Linked DNA regions of Homo sapiens: all the other regions are linked to region 2. The links come from fine-mapping of genetic effects on gene expression. A gene starts in region 2. Each other region holds a variant in brackets. All regions are shown on one strand. Distances are between the middles of the regions.

Region 1 (6,703 bases), 13 kb before region 2:
TCTCGTTGTCTCTCTCTCTCTCCCTTCTTTCTCTCTCCTACCCTCTCACTCTTCTTTCTGCCCCCCCGTAACAATGTTTTAAGTTTGGTTTATTATTACATGCATTGACAAAACTGAGGCTGATTGCCATGAAGCAATTTTGCCTAATGTCAGAAGAAAGTGAGCCCAGGTCATTGGGCCCCAAATCCAATGCTTTCTATTTGAACTGCTTTCAAACTTGCTATCCACCTCTATTCATCACATCTGAACTCTTCCAGCCTCTGCCAAAGAGGTCATTTCTTGGCACACTGAATCCCATTGTGGAGAGGGATAGAATAGGTGTGCCCTGGCCATCAGGTCACTACAATTATTATATATAGACTTCTGACTTGTGCATCCATGATCTCACAGCAGCACCGATTATTGTTACCCATATGTGTTATTAACAGCTTCCTAAGGCTGCTATAACAAAGTACCAAAGCACGGTGGCTTAAAACAATAGAAACCTGCTCTGTCATAGTATGAAGGCAGAACTCTGAAATCAAAGCGGCAGCAGGGTTACTTCCTTTGGGGGCTGTGAAGGAGAATCCCACCCATGCCTCCCTCCTAGCTTTGGGTGTCTGCCGGCAGTCCTTGGTATTCCTTGGCTTGCGGCTGCCACACTCCCATTTCTGCCTCCATCCTCACATGGCCTTCTTGTTTGTCGTCTCTTCTATGTCTGCGTATGTCCAATCTTCCTTTCCTCTCTCTTACAAGGACACCAGTTGTTGGGCTTTGGGTCCCATCCTAAATCCAGATGACCGCAATTACTTCTGCAAAGACCCTATTTCCAAATAAAGTCACATTCACAAGCGTGGAGATCAGGACTTGGCCTGGTTTCTTTGGGGGACATAATTTCACCTGCTACTGCATAGATGAGCAAGAGGAGTTTTTGCGAGGCTCAGTGACTCATCCCAGCACACAGCTAGGAAGTAAGGGAACATTAAGACAGAAGACCAGCTCCTTCTATCACAAATCCAGGCCCCTCCTGTCTCTAGATCTCAAAGTCATTATCTCTGAATGCAACCTTTGGTTTAGAGACGTACATACAGCATTCAGAGCCAAGAAGAATCAAGGATGCGGTCCTTGGAAAAAGAAACACCTTGGAACTTGAAAAAAGAAACACCTTTCCTTTTCTATGGGAGTGTGCTTATGATATCTTGCTGCATAACAACTACCCCAAGACTTTTTGGACTAAAACAACAAGCATGTTTTATCCCCGAGGTTTTGTGGGTCAGCAATTCCAGGTTGCTTAGCTGGGACTTCTGCATCCAGGTTATCCCCAGGCTACCATCAAGGTATCAGCTAAACCTGCAGCTATCCCAAGGCTTGGCCAGGAAAGGGTCTGCTTCCAGGCCCACTCATGGGGCTGTTGGAGGGCTTGGTTCTTCCTGAGCTGTTAGACTGAAGGTTTCAGTTCCTTGCTTGTTATTGGGTAGAGACTGTTCTCAGTGTCTGGTCACCTGAGGCCTCCACAGGGCAGCTTGCTCACTCAGTCAGAGAAGGGATGGAAAAACAAAAGCATGTCACCATCTACCATCACCTAATCTGGGACCTGACATCTCAATCATTAAGCCACCAAGCCTGTCCCACACTCAAAAGGAAGAGATTACACAAGGGTGTGAATGCCAAGAAGCAAGGATCACTGGGCATCACCTTAGAGACTGGCCACCAGACACAGCCACAAAAGTAGACCCTCCTTGTCTATGGGTGGAGTGATAGAAAGATGTGAGGAACAGAGCTATGGCAATCATTTTGCTGCAGTGAAAGGAGAGCTGGGGATTTTGAGGAAGGCATGACATGGAGCCTGAGGACAGGGCCAACACCAAGGGATACAGAAAGAACAGACTTAGAAGAACCAGGTCCTTGATGACATGATTAAGCCTCTTGATCAGCCTCCTCTGTAGCCAGAAACCTCGGAAATGTTCAGATATAACGTGAGATAATAAATGCCACGGACAGAAAGTCCTAACAGATGCATGACCCCACATATAAATATGGGCAAGGTAGTGAAAATAACCTCCTGAGGTTGTTTGCCTCTGGATACAAGCCTTTTTTGTCATTCATTATCATTTGCTCACAGATGATTCACATCGGTACTGTGAGCTGGCCTGGGGTGACCATCCACAAGCTCAGGGCTGGGTTTCTAGCTGCATCCATATTCCCCTTATATTGAAGAACACCTTATATTTTATCAAGAGCCCCGAAGTCAAGCAGCTGATGAGGTTAAGGTCTGTCTACACCTGAGCACACAGCCAAAACCCCCAAGTCCCAGGGACTATTCATTTCACTGTGTTCGCAGGTGGGTTTTTAACAAAATTAGTAATGAGATCTTGCCTCCAAATCCCTTTTCCCTGGTGAATTCACTGGGGGAAAATCAGCTTGTCTGGGGGGAGCCTGCGTGGCCTGTTTTTTTCAACTGATGTTGAAATCCTACCATCTCCCAGCTCTGCCCTTCCACCCGCACCCACCCACATGGAGACAACTAACCATTAACTTGTCTTTTCCCATTTCACTGAAGAATTTGCGAGCACAGACTCAGCACTCACCCTCTCTCTCTGACTTCCTCAGACTCCAAACAGCACTTATAGAAAGTCAAAGTGTAATTGTGGAGATGTATTTGTGCTCTGGCCTTTTCAACATTTTGAGAATCACACACTGTGGGCTCCCCCCAGCCCTGCCCTTCTCCCTACCCCATAAACAATGTCTGACCTATAGCCTTTGAGGTAGGTTTCTGATGGGAATTGCAGATGATGGAGCCACCTTCTGCTTTAGGGACCTCCCCCATTCCCGGGTGGACACCGCCCCCCCCGCAACCTGCTCTGCTTCATGCATAGAGGGAAGAAATAACTATTCCCTGGAGATGCCGCATCTGATTCATAAGGAAAAAAAAAGGGATTTGAGGGGAAGATAATAGGAAGGATTTTGTTTTGTTTCATTTTTTTCTCATTTCACATTTTATTTGTAGAAGTTTAATGACTAGATATCAATGTTCTCTTTTATTTATCTACTTTCAAATTTTAATGAATACTTCTGGCTATAATTACCTAATTTTTATACTTAAAATGACTAGACACCTGTAGTTCAGAGCACATTGTATTCCAGCATGATGGCTTATGGTATCAAGTGCTGCATATATATGGATTAATCAATAAGCAAATTCAATTCTTATGAGGTGCAGTTCATTCTTTAAATTGAAGAGGCATTGACAACAGGAGGGAGAGGGTTTAGTGCTACTCTCTTAGGATGAGAATCTACCATGAATGTGTTCACTTCTCTGTTGTTCCTTTATTATCCAGGGAAGTGGCTTAATATTTTCTAAGAGTGGCCATTGTAAGCAGGACTCATCTATCCTTTTTTAGATGGATTTCTTTATTTTCAAGACAGTGTATGAGTAACCTGAAGAGGGGGTGGGTCTCAGTGCCCCCTCAAACCATTCAATTCTATAAAATGCCCAAGAGGTAAACATTGGAGGACTCCACTTCTAATAGGTATGGAAAATACAATTCTACCCTCTCTAGATGTGGGTCCTGATAAGGCTAGAAACCTCAGCTTTTAAAGTCATTGGTACTCTTTGGTATAATGACAACCACTATTGGACTAGGTACCAATTTTAGGGCCTGTGTCTGAGGCACTATGCCAGG[T/C]GCATCACATACAAATTCTAGTCTCACAGCAGAGTGTGAACTGATATCTTCATTCTACAGATAAGGAGGCTCAAGGTGTGACAGACCATATCACATGTGAAAGTCATGTAGTTAAACCAGGAATATCTCATATCTAAGCATTTTTTTCTGCCCACTCTATTACATTAATTTATTGTTTCTCTCCTTTAATTTCTTTCCTTCTGGAGTACTCACACTAACCCTTCTCATGTTCTGTTAGAAGCAAGGCTCATTAGAATAAGAAAGGCAATTGCTTGAACCTCACCATCTTTTGCTGGAGCTTACAGAGAGGCAGTCATGGACCTCTTGAGACCAGGAGGCCCAGGTACAGGTGATAAGAGCCCAGCTGAGACCAGAAAGGGCAGAAGGTGAGTGACTAATGGACTCCCACCACCCGCCTACTGGAACCCTGGGGGCCTGGAGGTGAGGAATTGTGAGCTAGACTAAAAGAGCATTTTCAATTATCCCAGGAGAGAAGTGTTTAGACAGGACAATTAGGTCATTTAAAGTGACCATATTTTCTGTTAGAACCAAGGGAATTCCTAGTTCAGCCTGCCCTGGCTTTCTTAACCTCACTGGGTAAAGACATTGATGAGGGAAGAGAGGAATCTCCCCACAGCCTGGTGGCTCACAAGGTGTCATCCGAGACCTCTGTGGAGGGTTTACAATCAGGGGAGGCTTGTGGGACAAGGTGCACAGAGTAGGTGAGGATTCATTGAATGCAAACTGATGAGAGTTTTCATAATGTTAAATAGGGAAAGAAGAGGAGGGTCACAGGGGTAGGAAGGAATTGTAAGCCACAGGATGTGTAAAGGCTGTTTTGATTAGGGAAGTTTGGACCACTCTGGGTGACCCACCTCTGTGAGAAGGAGAGATGTTTGGGTGGGGCTGGTGGAGAAAACGGCACCTTGTTAAGGCCAGAAAGATGGCCAGGAATTAGCAGGGAAGAGACACGGGGAGGGCTTTCTCGGAAAAGGAGCCATAAGTATTGGTATAGTAACAGTTTTACATTTAAATTTAAAGAATGTCTTGATGGATTTTCAAGGTGAGCTTTTTAGGCCTTTCCACCTTCCAATGTCCCCTACTCCCCATTTTCCCTACAGATGAAATGATCAAATTCAAGCTGCTATGGCATTTGACTTTCAAAGCCCAATACATTTCATTCCTTGTTAACCTGTTTATTCATCTCTTATAAATACTCTTTCCACCCCCACCCCAGTTTCACCTGGAGGTCTCACACAGGAGTGCCTTCTCTCTGCTATGCTCTCTGACTGCTGTGACCCCTGTGCACCCAGGTGGGGCCACAGTCACTCCAGGAAGTCTTCTGTGCTGGCCCCACATCTTTCTCTTCTTCCTCTTTCAGCCTTCTCTGGATGCTAACAAAGCTGTTGATAGCTGTTAATGGTTTCGCTGTGTCCCCACCCAAATCTCATCATGAACTATAGTTCCCATAATCTCCACATATTGTGTCATGGGAGGGACCTGGTTGGAGGTAATTGAATCATGGGGGCAGTTACCCCCATGCTGTTCTCATGATAGTGATTCTTACAAGATCTGATGTTTTTTTTTAGGGGCTTTTCCCCCACTTCACTCATACTTCTCCTTGCTGCCACTATGTGAAGAAGGATGTGTTTCCTTCTCCTACTGCCATGATTGTAAGTTTCCTGAGGCTTCCCCAGCCCTGCAGAACTGTGAGTCACTTAAACCTCTTCCTTTATAAATTACCTAGTCTCAGGTATGTCCTTATAGCAGCGTGAGAATGGACTAATACAGCTGTGTTCTGAGTCCGATTTTATCTGTTTTATGGGATTGCGATAGCCCCAGCTCTGCTGTGTACTCTTGGAGCACAATGCTCTTGCTGTAGAATTCCTCAAATTCCCCAACAGACCCTAGACACCATGGATCTTTCCATAACACTCTGCAATTAAGGGCTGGTTCCCAATGACTGACTCTTGAAAAATACTAGACCTTCTTCCATTAGCAAAATGAAACAAACAATACCATTTAAACTTGACCATAATGTGTTTGAAATCTCATTTTCTCTTAACCAAATGTCCTCTACTTTTTTAGTTGAACAACTTAAACTAGAAATTTACTATACAAGTTATAAGTCTGAGGTATTAGACCTTCCTTTTTTGATTACTGGTGGCAGTCTGATTTGTTTATATAGTGCTTCCGAGTTGACAGGAAACTTCTGGAGCCATTATCACTTTTTCCTACACAAAGGACTGAAAGAGTATTTTCTCTCCATTTGACAGATGAAGAAGCTAAGGCATGAGGGAATGAGCAAAAGTAAGCCCAATATGCTGCAGGAGAGGAAGGGGATCCAAGGATACCTGACAGAAAATTTTCTGCTCATTTTAAGGCACTGGCCATTGTCTTCTTCTTTTTTTTTTTTTTTTTTTTGAGACAGAGTCTGACTCTTTCACCAAGGCTGGAGTGCAGTGGTGCAATCCTGGCTCACTGCAACCTCCGCCTCCTGGGTTCAAGCGATTCTCCTGTCTTAGCCTTCTGAGTAGCTGGGATTACAGGCTTATGCCACCATGCCCGGCTAATTTTTGTATTTTTAATATAGACGTGGTTTTGCCATTTTGGGCTGGTCTCAAACCCCTGACTTTAGGTGATCTGCCTGCCTCAGCCTCCTAAAGTGCTAGGATTACAGGCATGAGCCAATGCACCCAGCATGGCCCTTGTCTTATAAATTCTAAAAAGCAGATACTACTGCATTTACCTAAGACCATTGACAGGGAGTCTGAAAACTCATAGACATTCATTGGAGTGGAGTGAGAGGTGGGAAAGTGTGTTGTTTTGGTGGAGTGAGGCTCAGATGCATTTCTCATTCTTTCTCTTCACGTAATCGCAGCACTGTGGGAGGCCGAGGTGGGTGGATCGCCTGAGGTCAGGAGTTCGAGACCAGCCTGGCCAACACAGGCAAACCCCGTCTCTACTAAAAATACAAGAATTAGCTGGATGTGGTGGTGCGTTTCTGTAGTCCTGGCTACTCGGGAGGCTGAGGCAGGAGA
Region 2 (6,703 bases):
AGTCAATACGTGTTGAACTGTACAGCAAGAAAACTCAATTCCTTTCTTGTGATAATTGAAATCATTTCAATTCATTTCCTTCTTGGTTGGACAGAAACATGTTTTCAGTAGTGAGCAAATCTTGAGGGAATCCATTGACCTGAACACTCATATAATGCATGAAGTTAGTGGACAAAAAATGATATTCATCTTCAGTTAATAATAGCATTTTCTTCTGCAGCACCTAAACTTAGGGGTGGTGAGGGATACTATTGGTGCAGTCACTGTGCCACCGGCAGATGCATGACCTTTGTTGTATCTAACTATAATTGGATCTATGGTGAAATAAAATAAAAACCAACACAAGTTTTGACACTAAGATAATAAATTATAAATTATGGAAGTCTACGCCACCAAGGATCTTGTAAACAACAGGCTGGTCTCTTAGCAACAGACCAAGGAGAGCAGGTTGTTGATAGGAATGGAGCAGACAGGATTGTTTTGTAGTGATTACTACCAAACACCAGGAACTACATTTCAACACCTGCCCGAGGCCCCATCCCTGCCCAGCCTTTCTTTGTCCAATGGCCAGTGACCCTTTCCCACTGACCCAGATGACCAGACCCCATGGAGGGGACAATAAAGATATGGACTGAAGGATAGAGGTGGGCTGAGGATGCCCTGTGGGAACAGGAGGGAACTACAGAGGGGGCGGGAGAAATAAATACATTCTTATTTGATACTGTTTAAAATTAGGACTCTAAACGGGGAACTCCTCTTTTCCCTGCCCCCAACTCCCTTTGGTTTTAAAAATCTCACTGAGAGTGGTTGTCATGAAGGAATTTAGACAAGACTTTGACAAGGTGCCAAAATGGTTTATTTTAAAATGTTGTTCCCGAAAGCACCGGAATATTAAGTTGGAGCAAACGTTGCTTGGAAGAGCGAAGGGGTTGTGGTCACACATTCTTGGAAGAAGGGTGATGGAGATCAAGGTGTTTGTAACCTGGAATTAACAAACGCAGGTGGACCGAAGGACTCAGTCACCAGGGAGTTTTTTTTTACAAATACATGTGTAAGAGTGTGTGTGAGTGTAGGTGAGTGTGGGTGTGTGTGTGAGTGTGGGTGAGTGTGTGAGTGTATGTGTGAGTATGTGTGAGTGTATGTGTGAGTGTGTGTGTGAGTGTGGGCGCGTGTGTGTGAGTGTGGGTGAGTGTGTGTGTGAGTGTGGGTGAGTGTGTGGGTGAGTGTGGGTGAGTGTGTGTCAGTGTTTCTCAACTGCGGGGCATTTTCGGAGTTGGGGTGCAGAAGGAGATTTTCTTTAATTAATTAGATGTTTACCTCCAGCATCATCCCTCAGTGGTTTAGACAATCATCTGCCCACATGTTAGGAATGAGATTCAAGAAAGCCTCTTGGAGTGAAATTTTCCTGGAAATATCCTGATTCTTGGCGGCACACACCCTCTCCCTCTTTCTGTGATAGAAACAGCCAGTTCTGCATTATTCCAAACCACAAAGCAAGCGACATGCCATCCCAACTTAGGATATGAAGGAAGTATCAGCCCCCTAATTGCACAGGGGCCACACAGCCTGCATCTCCCTCCATCGTCCCGACTGCATGCTTTTGATTGTTTCATAATAAAAGTGGCCGGCTAAATTATGACTACTTGTGATTTATTTGCCATGTCATTTAGACTTTTCATATGTATAAATTTGCCATTTGAAAAGAAAGAGAAAATTCACTGCTATTCCCCAAGGCCTCGTTTTTGGGGAGCTCCTCTAACATCATGAACAGAGGCTTTGTGACTTCTAAAGTGATTAGCTCCTATCCGGAGGTTTTGGAACATATCTGTGCTCAGAAGCAGTCTGCCGGGGTGAAATTCTATCTGGAATAGTGTCCTAACCCCATCGGAGAGAGACTCTGAATTTTTAAAACGCCTGTTAAGGACCCCTGGGTATGAGCCCCGCACAAACATGTCTGCGGCACCCACAGCTGTGCCTCAATGAAGGCCCAATTTCTCCATTGCACAGATGAAATTGCAAAGGCCCAGCAATGTTAGCCAAATTCCCCAAGCTTAATGCCAGAGCCTGCTTCCACTCCAGGACAAAGTGGTTTCAAAGTCCATACTTGCCCCACCCTGGTGGCCTGCCCTGGGGAAGGTCACTGCCAAGAAGGCTCCTGGGCCGTCTTGCAGCTGCTGCCTCTTCTTTTAATTACGAAAGAAATGCATCATCATGAAAAATCAACAATACACAAGATATAAAGTTAAAAGGCAAAGTCCCCCCTCATCCTCTCTCTCAGCCCCTCAAGTATATTAGAAGATCTTTTTAGGGTTGAATTTTCACTCTGCAGGAGGGTGTTCTGTATACAAAGAATACGACCCTTTCTTCCTCTTTAATTTGCTTATAGCTGGTACATTTCAAAAAAAAATAAAAAGTGACCCATGCCTTTGATGTTTTTTTTTTCCCCTTATTTTTGTCAACATATTGTGGAGAATGCTGAGTTCTTTGAATTGTTTTTCCCTCTGACAGCAAATCACCAAGATGTACTTTTCCAGAGCCTAACATCCTTGAATTCACAAAAGTTCCAGTCTGGAGTCATAATGTGGAACGTAAGCAGTTCTAGTCAGTTCTGATCTTGGCAACATGAATTCTCCCCTTTCCCCGGGGAGACTCAGAAACCTGCATTTTCACAAGATTTCCCAAGTGACATGTGTGCACAACAGGGTTTGAGAAACCCTGTGCTGGACTCAGCTGCTTCAGAGAGAAGACACAGAACAATTGCCAAGCTATCAAAAAAAGCTCAGACTGACAGCAGAGAACTCAATAGAAATGCCCCATCCGACTGTTGAAACTCAGGCCCAAACTACTGCAAGAGAGTGGAGAACTGTTTCTCCTCTGAAAAGGCCCGATTTCGACTAAATGAAAGCAAAACTGTAGGGACCATTTCCCACCTAGTAGCTTGAAGCCCTACCCGGTCACCAAATTGGCCTAGCTGGTCCTACCTGCATTTGGTAAGAGCCGGGGATTGGGACGAGGCAGAGAGCAAGACCAAGCTGGTTTCCTCTCCGGTTTCCTCCGGGGTGGCTGGGTCCCAGGTCCTGCCCCCGCCTCGCCCTGTGCAAGCTCGGTGCAGTGCAGCCCCTCCGGCTCTCGCCCCACAATGCCGTGCGCAGGCTGGCAGCAGTTCAGCTGAGGACTAAACGCTTGGCTCAAGTTCAACACGGCTGCCAAGATTTGGCAACCAGAGAGTTGCAGGGAAGCAGCAGGCTGCTAAACCCTTTCACATTTTTAATTAGATCCACACACCCATGTCTTTGAGCTATCATAAATATACAGATGACATAGAGAGTATTATTCGGGGTTAAAAAAAAAAAAAAGGAAGCAAACTCTACTAAGGTACAGCTTACCTTATTGAAATAATTTCCCTATCACTAGTTTGAGGGCTGAGGAGGAAAAAGAGAAGGTAGTGATATTTGCTTAAGTAGAACCACATCTGACAAGGGAATCTACCCAGGATCTGGAAAACACAGGTCTCGGCTGCCTTGCTATCTTCCTGGGCTTCGAGAATATCACCAGAAGAGGGCATTCTTGGCGCCGGCTCAGCCCTGTGCAGCCCGGAGCTGGCAGGCAGCAGTGCTGGAGGAGTCATCCCTCAGGCCACTCCCACCTCCCGTTCTTGGGGATAGCTTTAATATCGCCACGGAGCAGAGAGGTTCTCTCCTTCGCCCTAAATGCAGCAACTTTTATACTCCATGTTGCCTTACTATTCTTCTCGTTTTATTTCCTTCTCTGGATTGTTTTTGGGTATCTTCCCCTGGAAAACAATTGCAGATGCTTCTAAATTTTTCTAAGTCCTGTGCCGCAACATGCTCAGCTTCTTCCCCTCAGAACCAGCCTTTCCCCTTGCACTCAGCCCCTGGGCGATTCTCCCTCCGGGGAGGAAAGAAGATTCAACTCTTGATTCAAATGCTCCGGATTTCACTCTGGTTTCGCTGTGTGGCTTTGGACATAGGATTTAAAGCCTTCACGTTGGTTCCCTCATCTGAAAGATCCCAAAGCAATTCTGGCCTCACAGAGTGGCTCTGGGGTTTAAATCCTATGTACAAGGCTCGTAACACAGTCAGCACCCAACACTGAATATTCGATAGAACATGTGCCTTGTAGACAGTCAGCTAACAAACAACTCCACCAAAACAACAGTGCTAGTCCTTAGTCTTCTTCTTCCCTGAACTGCTTCTCCTCTTGTTTGTGACAAAGGCCACCCATGTTTCTCAGACAACTAACCCTAGTCTGATCAACTTGCCGTAAGATGAGAGTGAGCCCATGCATTGGTGTGCATGCCCTTAATTTAAAAGACATGTTAAAAAGGAAATGAAACACTTGAAATGCAGGAAAGAAGTGCCTCTGGTTGTCCCATCTGAGAGCACAAAGTTTATAAATAGAACCATCACAAGCATCAAACACGAGCTGTGCTAAGGCATCAAACACACATACATACACACACACGCACACACATGTTTGTGTCCTTGGCTTATGGTGAACAATTTGTACACCTTTCAGTGGCCCCCGCAGAAAACCAGAGCTTGTAGTGGACACTTGGCAGCATTTGGTCTTTTCCTCATCCTTCCTTCATTTATTTTTTCTTCACATATGACTTGAAAATAGAGCATGTTTTACTGTGGCAAAATTCCCTCTATACTTGACCTGCAAACAGGACAGTCAGGCTAACTGGGATGACCTGGTCCAATGAAGTGGGCTGGAGACAATTCTACGCCCAATAGGCACCTTTCAGCAGATGGAAAGGGTGAGGACAAACAGGTTGGTGGGCCTCAGCACCTCATCTTTTCCTGTAGTCTCTCTTGCTCCCCAACACCTCACTATCTCCCCCAATCCCCAGGTACAGGGGATTTCCTTTCACTAGAAGAAGAAAGGATACAAGCTTCTTATGCACGTGTGCACACACGCACACCCATTCATGCTCACAGACACTGAAACAAGACCCTTACACCAGGACTGTTCCACTTGGAATACAGAGAGCAGTAATGGCTCCCACAGCCATGAAGACCCAGGCTGAGTCCCACTTGCCTCTATGGTCCTGATCAGGCTCTGACAGGGAGCACACTGCTGCTCATGATTAGTTATTTATACATGAGGAAGCAGCAAATTTCTATGAGAGTAAAGTAAGATATGATCCACATCATGCTTTCCTGGAGCAAAAAGGGTCAAGCTGAAGCCGGTCTCATTCTCTGAGCTATCGTGGGCTGCACCTACACGTCCTTCCCACAGACGCATTGAAGGAAACGGGCCCTGTGACACCCTGACCCTTTCTGCACTTTATGTAGGGTGAAGGAGGTAGGCTGGGAATTAATACATGCACTTCATGTATTTAAGGGCCATTCCCTAATAGTACTCTGAGACTTCCTGGGAAATATTATTAACTCAGGACTGACATGTATTAGTCTGCTTGAGCTGCTATAACAAAATACCACAGACTGGGTGACTTAAATCCCAGAAATGTATTTTCTCAGTGTTCTGGAGGCTGACAAGTCCAAGATCATTTCTGGCTGGCCTGGTTTCTGCTGAGGGCTCACCTCTTGTCTTGTAGACAGCCACATGGCCCTCCCTTGGTGTGTGTGCCTGGGGAAATAGCATTCTGGTGTCTCTTATAAAGACACTCATTCTATCATATCAGGACTCTACTTTTATGACCTCAGTAAGTCTTACTTCCTTCGAGCCCCCATTTCCAAATATGGCCATACTGGGGTTTAGAGCCTCAGGATATATATTTGGAGGGATAGAAATTTTCAATCCATAATAAAAGCATTTTCGTACTTTTGTGCATTTTGTACTTTTGGAAGGAGATGGAGTCAGATGGAAATTCTGCTCACTCCGCCACCCACTAGCTGTGTGGCCTTGTATAAATCTATTAACCACTCTGAGTCTTATTTTCCACTTTTGAAAAACAGGGGTTAAAAATGCTTTCCCTAGAGTGTGATTGTGAGTAATAGGTTAGAGTAATATATACACAGTTCCCGGCCAAGGGAGGCACTCAAAAAATGCAACAGCCATAGTGGTAGTTGATACCATTATTTATTATTTGATGTTATTATTTGTTAAAACCACCCAGAGAGTGTTGCCTGAAACACTGGCTTAGAGCTTTGCATCCCAAATGTTCTCTATACTGCCGTTTGCATCTGTTTATCACCAATGCTGACATGAGTCAATGAAGCTCATAAGGAGTGTGACCGTCTGTAATAATATCTTCCATGGGGTCCAGAGGAAACAAACATGCGCACTTCCAGAGAACTGTGTATAAATATTCATATCACTTTACGTTTAGGGCATTTTGCACTAGTTGTTGATACCATTATGCATTTAGCATGGTCATGACAATCAGGTTTGAAACTCTTGGTTAAAGCGAAAGTCTTGCAAGAAAACATAAATGTGGCTGCATTACACTTGGGGAGACTAAACTTGAGGGAGCCAAAGATTGGAATTATGCAGTTTCAAAGGCCATACCCTGAGCTTCACAATCCTGCCTGAGTCAGCAATTGCAACAATAATGCTGTATAACAAATCATCCCAGCTCAGATGCTTGAAAGACTAAGTATTTCTTCTCACGCTCATTGGTTTCTAGGTTTACTGTGGTTCTGTTGAGCTAGACTTGTCTCAGCTGATCAGCTCTGCTGCAGACTGCATGTCTCCTGAGCATGGTTTTAAGCTA
Region 3 (6,703 bases), 150 kb after region 2:
AAAGCATAAGGACAGTTATCTGCAAAAGAGACACTCTGTTCCTTACATGTTAAGAATGACTGTATCAATGACTGAAGAAGTCACAACATCCGTTTCTTCCTCCCTGTGGAAATTCTTTCCCTTTTCCTCCACCTCACTTCCCCACTGCCCATCAGTCTATTTGACACAACAGACACCTCTGAGAGCAAATGTTTCTATATTTATTACAACTGTGCCCATGTATCTCAAGACTAGACTGCCAGTCTAGTCCCCCCTTAACCCTGCCCCACAAAACACCGAATTTCTCATGTAAATTGTAAGAATTTATTTCCAAACTCTGCCATAATTTTTAACCATCAATTTGGGTGCCATTTCTCTAGACTTTATTATTTCAACGTCATTTCACAAGGAATGTCTGATATACAAAGTGAAATATAAAGTGAAGGAATGATCAGGGAAATTCAAAGCACAAAAGCCGCTTAAATTCACGTTCCTGTACCTGGGTGGTTTTGTTGAGATGCTGTGAGCAGGTGGTACAGTCTTCAGGCCCAGCAGTTATCATACTTGCCTTTAGGAGTTGGTTAATGCTGGCTTGGGCACTGCCCAGGTACAACTGAGCAACACTCACCAAGGGTAATTCTTTGTCACATACATATTAAGTGTCTTAGTGAAAACCAAACAAACAAAAGAAACAATCTGCTGTCAAAATGTTGGCCTTTGACTTGGAGTCAAATAAATATGCTGGATTTGGGATCTGCTAGACCAAGCTTTAAAGCTCATCTCCAACACATAGATAACTCACCTTGAAATGCAGTTTTCCACCTGGAAAATCAGAGTAATAACATTTGCCACAGTAGCATTTTGAGGGGGATGTTAGGGATATAATATGCATTCTATATAGAATGACACTTTATAAGCTTGTAATAAATTGTTACTCTAATGAGTATAATTATCATCTGTTGTGTCTCCAAAGTAGAACCATTGTCACCCATTGAATGTTTATAGCTTCTACTTGGAGTTGTGACTTCTGGTAGCCCTCATCACCATGGCCAATGACCATTTCCTCCTTTATCTTTAAGACTTAAAGTCCAATGGTCTCTCCAGTGAGTTAACCCTAGCTGAACCCCAAATTAGTTTCCTTTTGTCAGCTTCCAACCAGCTGCTTCTGCTGAGATCTGCTTGTCTTTCCCTCGGAGCTCAAAGCCATAGAGTTTTAAGAATTCAGCAGGGGATAAACTAGAAGCTTCTTCTGGATTATTTAATATGGACCATCAATTATTCATTTGCCCCTGACCATTGTCTGGGATGTATAAGGAATAGGTTTAGGCCCTAGCAACTAAGTAAGCACTGAGCAGAAGATGTTATCGCTAATCCCTTGTGAGGTCACCCTGCCCTACTGCACATCACTGAGCTTGTGGTCCCAAGAAGCAGAGCCTGAGATGGAGATCTTTGTGCAAGTGATTTACTGTGAAAGAAACTTTAAAAAGAGGGAGGAAATCAGGGAATGGGCAGGTGAAGATGCTGAGCAAGGATGAAGTCTCAGATGCAGACTCACTCATGCCTGATCCCACAGAAGCTCTGGGGTATAAATGGCACCACAATGTTGGTCCCCTTGGTGACTTGACTCCAGACGATTGTTCCCATGCATCAGTTAGCTATTAGCTGCAGGCCACCTGTGTTGTGGTGGGTGGGTGGAAAATGCAATTTCTAGGGTGAGGAGTTCTAACAGCAGAGGGTGATTCTCTACAGAATGGTGCAGCTTTGAGCCTACAACAGCCAAGACTTGCAGCAATTGGAAAATGGGTGATCAGTCTGAATAAAGCAGATCTATACAAAGTCACAAAGTGACCACTAAACTGATTGCTCTTCCTGAACCCCTGAGACACACACTTGCCCCCATTTTACATAGCAAGTGGGACTTGGTCCCGATTCTCAAATGAGTGCCCAGAGGAAACAATAGATCCTCAGAGCTCAATTCTGCATCTGACAATTTCCTACTATCCTGACTGTTGAGTGCATTCATAATCATTTATCTAATGCATCTCTTTTTCACCAGATGGCAAACTTCAACCCAGTAAAGACGATGTGCCATATCACCTTTATCCAGAACATTGCCTACCCTACAGTCGATGCTCAATAAAAGCATGTGAACATACACACATGAACATACAAATCTACACAGATGTGGCATCTCAGGGATGTATAATCATTCTCAGAAGTAGAGCAGTTTAAGTTCATGTTGAGAAAATATTGGCTCTAACTGTAATGTAATCTGCTTCTGTGTATCATGGACTTGGCACCATCCACCACTTACATCATTCCACAGAACAGAGCCAGTCCTGTTGTTAATCATCCTGATTCCTGACTGTGCTAAAGCTCACCGTGGATAGAAATGATTGGCATCTCTGATATGCAAAGACCTAGTGAAGGTTTGCAATGACTGACTTTCTTTGACCTGGGCCACTGTAGATATCTAAGCAGAACCTCCTCTCCCAAACTGGCCTAGAAAAGTGAAAAAAAAAAAAGGTGGGGTGGGGGGACTTGGAGGATTTCACTCTCTTCTGGACGATAAGAATAAATAAGGAAGAGTCACCTCCCGATGACCACACAGCCAAGTTATAAAGGGGCTCCCATCACTTACA[C/T]GTGTGCAGAGCAAACCTGCCCATGCCCCACCTTCAATCAAAAAGTCTTTTCTGTTGCACAAGCCCAAGCTTCCAAAACTCTCTCTCCTTGTCCATCATTGCTTCCTTCATCCTGTTCTCATTCTCTGATCATTTTTATCCCTACCTGTCCAAGACATGGTGGAGAGCAGACTCAAGGCCTGACCAAGTCAAACTCAGGATCTTGAATATATAACTTGCCCATGATCCCATATTCTGAACTATCCCTGGACATAGCTTCATCTTCACTTTGAGTCAAAATCATCTTTCCTGCTTGCCAGATCTGGTTCCTCCCCTACATATACACACAAAGTAAGCCTCCTCTTTTCAATATAGTTGTCATTTCCAGAGTCACTGTCAGGCATGAGCGTGTTGACCACACAAGCAACACTCAAACCACAGGAAGCAGGACTTGGAACTAGAGGCCAGAGTGAAAGAGTTCAGATATGGAAGGAGTCCAATCAGATAGAGCTCAGGACTCACATCATGTAGCTTTTCTGGAAAGAGGGCTGAAAACAGAGGATAAGTCCTGGGATTTGGTGCTCAATGTCATGTTCCTGGGGAATGGCATACCTCAGAGCCAAGGGTGCTTATTTGCACAGCTGCACACTGAGGCTACAGAAATGCTCAGTGGCTGTGTGGCTGGAAGGGGCTGCTGTAATGTGTGTGCATGGGGAGAGAGGGGCAACCCTGAAGGCAGAATGGGTTTGGCTGCTCAGGTCCTGTGACTGTGGTTGCTAGGAGGCTCAGGCTCAGTTTTGAAAGGAGCCTCTGAACTCTTGGAAAAGCTCCTTCCAAATCAGAAATGATGAGAAGCTGAACACAACCTTCGGCTCAAGTTCACCAGTGGAGAGGTCAGGAGTAAGTAGTGCATGAGCCAGGGGTTATCAAATTGAACTTTATGCTCTTAAAGATAAATACCATATCCAAATGCTGTGTCTTCTTTGCTAAAAATTACCAGCCAGCCTGGCTATTTATGAACTTTATTCAGAAGTATTTATTGAGCACCTACCGTGTACCAGGCACTACATTATACATTATGGATACTCACACAAAGTCCTAGTTCCTGCCTGTTGTGGTTAATTTTATGCGTCAGCTTGACTGGATTGCAGACTAATTAGATATTTGATCGCACATTATTCTGAGTGTTTTTATGAGGCTGTTTTGGAATGAGATTAACATTTAAATTGGTGGGCTTTGGATAAAGCATACTGCCCTTCTGAATTTGAGTGGGCCTTAACCAATCAGTTGAAGGCCTGAATAGAATAAAAAGGCTGACCTTGTCCTACGTTATGGGGAACGTCTGCTACCTGACTGCCTTGAGCTGGAACATAGGGTTTTTTTTTTCCTGTGTCAAATCTCTTTCTGGGCTGAGAGTCTGCTGGCCTTCAGACAGAAACTTATACTATAGACTCTCTCGATGCTCAGACTTGGACTGGAACTAAATCACTGGGTCTCCTGGCTCTTGAGCTTGCCAACCACAGACCTAGCCACGTGAATGATAGGCATCCATTTTCTCCCTACCTTTCTGTACTGCCTTTCACGATGCTGGCTTCACCCTCTATGCAATATTCTGGATGTTCTGGATTCTTCCTCATTGATTAAAAAAAAAATGGCTGTAGCTGTTGCAGACTTTACACCCTTACAAACTACTATCCAGAGAAAAAGAAAGAGTGCCGAGAGATCCTATGAAGAAAAATAAGGCTTCCCTTTCTCAGAATCTCCAATAAATACTTCATATTTCCTTGTCTCTGATTGGGTTGTGTACTCATCCTTGAACCAATCACAGTGGCCAAAGGGATGGGTACAATAATCGGTAAAGCCAATGAGAGTCCACTCCTGAAACTAGACCCAGGGGTTAATTTTGCTATTAATTACATCTGAGAACAAGAGGGAGTGGTTCCCCCTTAACAATGCTAAGTACTGTTTCCTGAAGATGATTGGATGGAAGAAAGAGAACAAGTACCATACAAATTCACTCCACTGACCTCCTGAGTTAAGCCCTTACATGTGCTGTTCCTCTCACCTCTGCCAATTCCCCTACTGTCATTTCTCATCTCAGACTAGTCCTTCTATCCCCAGTGACTGGTTGACATTTCTGGGGAGCTCTCCTGACCACTCCCTTCCTAGACCAGATTAAGTGGCCCTGTTTTGCCTCCTCCGACACTCCCCTAACAAGCACCTGCTGCTCTCCTGGCACTTCTATCAGTGTCTGAGTCACTTGTTTACTTGTTGCCCAAACCCACTGGACTATAAATTTTTTTCACAGTATTGCCAAGAGAAAACACATAGCTTCAGGTGCTAGGAGCTGTGCTCAAAACTATTTGAAAGGTGAATGCAGGAATGGATGGATGAGTGAATGAATGAGGTGGGTGAATAATGAAATGAATGAATGAAGTGACTTAGACTTTAATCTTAACCAACTGAAAGAAAGAAAGGTCTCATTATCAGCACTCCAGGAAAGCCAGGAGAGATCTTGTTTTCCTAGATACTGGTCAAATTTGATAGAGAATATTGTTTTGAAATATGAAATGCTGAAACCAGGGAAGAACCTGATTTAACATCGTAAGAAGAATCAGACGTACAAAAATAGCAAGTGAATGCAGTTAATTACGATTTAAATATTGATCATAAAGGACTCTTTCAGCCTGAATTAACATAGTGAATTTCAAATCAAAGACCCTGTATAATCAGATAAAGATTGACCATTGACCCTGGCATTGTGCCAGATGACTAAGTCAGGTCTCATCCTTTCTTGGGAAACCTCCCCTTGGTGTTGACATTCCAGGGAGAGGCATGGGTCCAGCACTGCACCCAAATATTGAGTCTGCATGGATGTAATCAGAGATGGGGCACCGGACTGTCTTTGAAAGGGATTTCCTTCAAACCATGAAACTGATCATTAATCACTTTTGCGTAGCTTGCTGTGTTGTTGCAATGATGGGGAAATTCAAGTAAAAAACAAAATTCACCTGACAATAAAATATAAATCTGTGTCAATATCACAGTATATGTGGCAAAAAGCAGCCCAACCATGGTCTCAACTCAAGATAATCAGGACAGAAAGTCTATATAGCACTTGGAATCTCACAGGAGTCTTGGCTTTCCTGTTGTCTTTACTGTACTTTGCTTTAACCAACCTGGAAGGACAACATCACCACACCTGTCTTGCAGAAGAGAAAACTGAGGCCCAGAAGGCTAATGGGATTTGTGCACAGCTACTAACAATTGTCCACCTAATGATTTGAATTCAGATAGCTTCTTTAATGCTCTTCAACACAACTTCCTCACTCTAAGTCAAATGTGAGCAGCATTAAAAGAAAATAAAAGTACAGTATTGTACAGAAAGCAACATACGTCATTCATGGCTGTGTGTGTCCATAAATATGTGTGTGTATATATATATGCATGTATATATGTATCTATATGTATGATAAAAAATAAAAATAACAACTACAACAACAAAAAAACAGAACATGGAAGTAAAAAAAGAGAGTGATTTTCCAGCAGGTTCCTGCAGAGCCCTTCTCTTGATTCCTGAGAGGTTCAATTAACGGATGCAAGTCATAAAACAGTGCATTTTCTCTCTGCTATGATGCATTGTTTTTAATCTCACTGCCTTGTATTATATCACATTCCTATAATTCTTCCGACAGGAAAAGGCTTGTTTCATAAAAATATAGTCCCCAGCATTTGAAATATAAGTTCACATGCAAGCAACATATATATCACCAAGCTGGCAAACTAACTCACTTACTTAATCCACTAAACTTCAGGTGCTTTCTATATTATGTGAAATGGCTTGAAACAGGCAGAAGCTGCCAGGACCCATCACGGCTTCTTTGCTCAAGAGAGACAAGAGGAGAAGGGGAGAAGGGAGCGGGGGGAGTGGAAATTCCCTCAGTGGATTCCACAATAACATGCCTTTCATTATCACCCAGTGTCAGGACACTGGGTAATGTTCATTGTGCATGCACAATAAATTACTATTTACCTGGCAGTGCTTTTGATAAGCTCGTCTCCTCACCCCCTTTCTGTCCATGCAGCACAGAGCAGCGAAACCC

Alleles and levels. Positions count from the first base shown, and alleles are read on the strand shown. Sizes are in standard deviations (SD) of each study's normalised expression.
For the expression in sigmoid colon of the gene that starts at base 3,129 in region 2, C is the low allele of the variant in region 1 and T is the other (small effect, 0.24 SD a copy in GTEx).
In carriers of allele T in region 3, the expression in adrenal gland of the gene that starts at base 3,129 in region 2 tends to be lower than with C alone (moderate effect, 0.41 SD a copy in GTEx).

The links. PIP is the estimated chance that this variant, and not a neighbour inherited with it, causes the effect. A credible set is the group of variants that fine-mapping cannot tell apart.
Region 1: its variant is the best candidate, but not a certain one, in a credible set for the expression of LINC01550 in sigmoid colon (GTEx, PIP 0.82).
Region 3: its variant is the best candidate, but not a certain one, in a credible set for the expression of LINC01550 in adrenal gland (GTEx, PIP 0.75).

What each region holds. Positions count from the first base shown.
Region 1 is chr14:97,962,229-97,968,931 of GRCh38, forward strand. All of the region lies in intron 2 of LINC01550 (long intergenic non-protein coding RNA 1550), which reads right to left. Among named protein-coding and RNA genes, the nearest start is that of LINC01550, 13 kb to the right of the region's middle. The variant T/C (reference allele first, on the strand shown) is at 3,663.
Region 2 is chr14:97,974,996-97,981,698 of GRCh38, forward strand. LINC01550 (long intergenic non-protein coding RNA 1550) reads right to left here and starts at 3,129. Exons shown (of 3, transcript NR_015430.2): 1 at 2,982-3,129. RefSeq lists an enhancer at 3,129-3,628.
Region 3 is chr14:98,128,594-98,135,296 of GRCh38, forward strand. The region is part of intron 1 of LOC105370655 (a long non-coding RNA gene); the gene reads right to left. Among named protein-coding and RNA genes, the nearest start is that of LINC02295, 4.0 kb to the right of the region's middle. The variant C/T (reference allele first, on the strand shown) is at 2,622.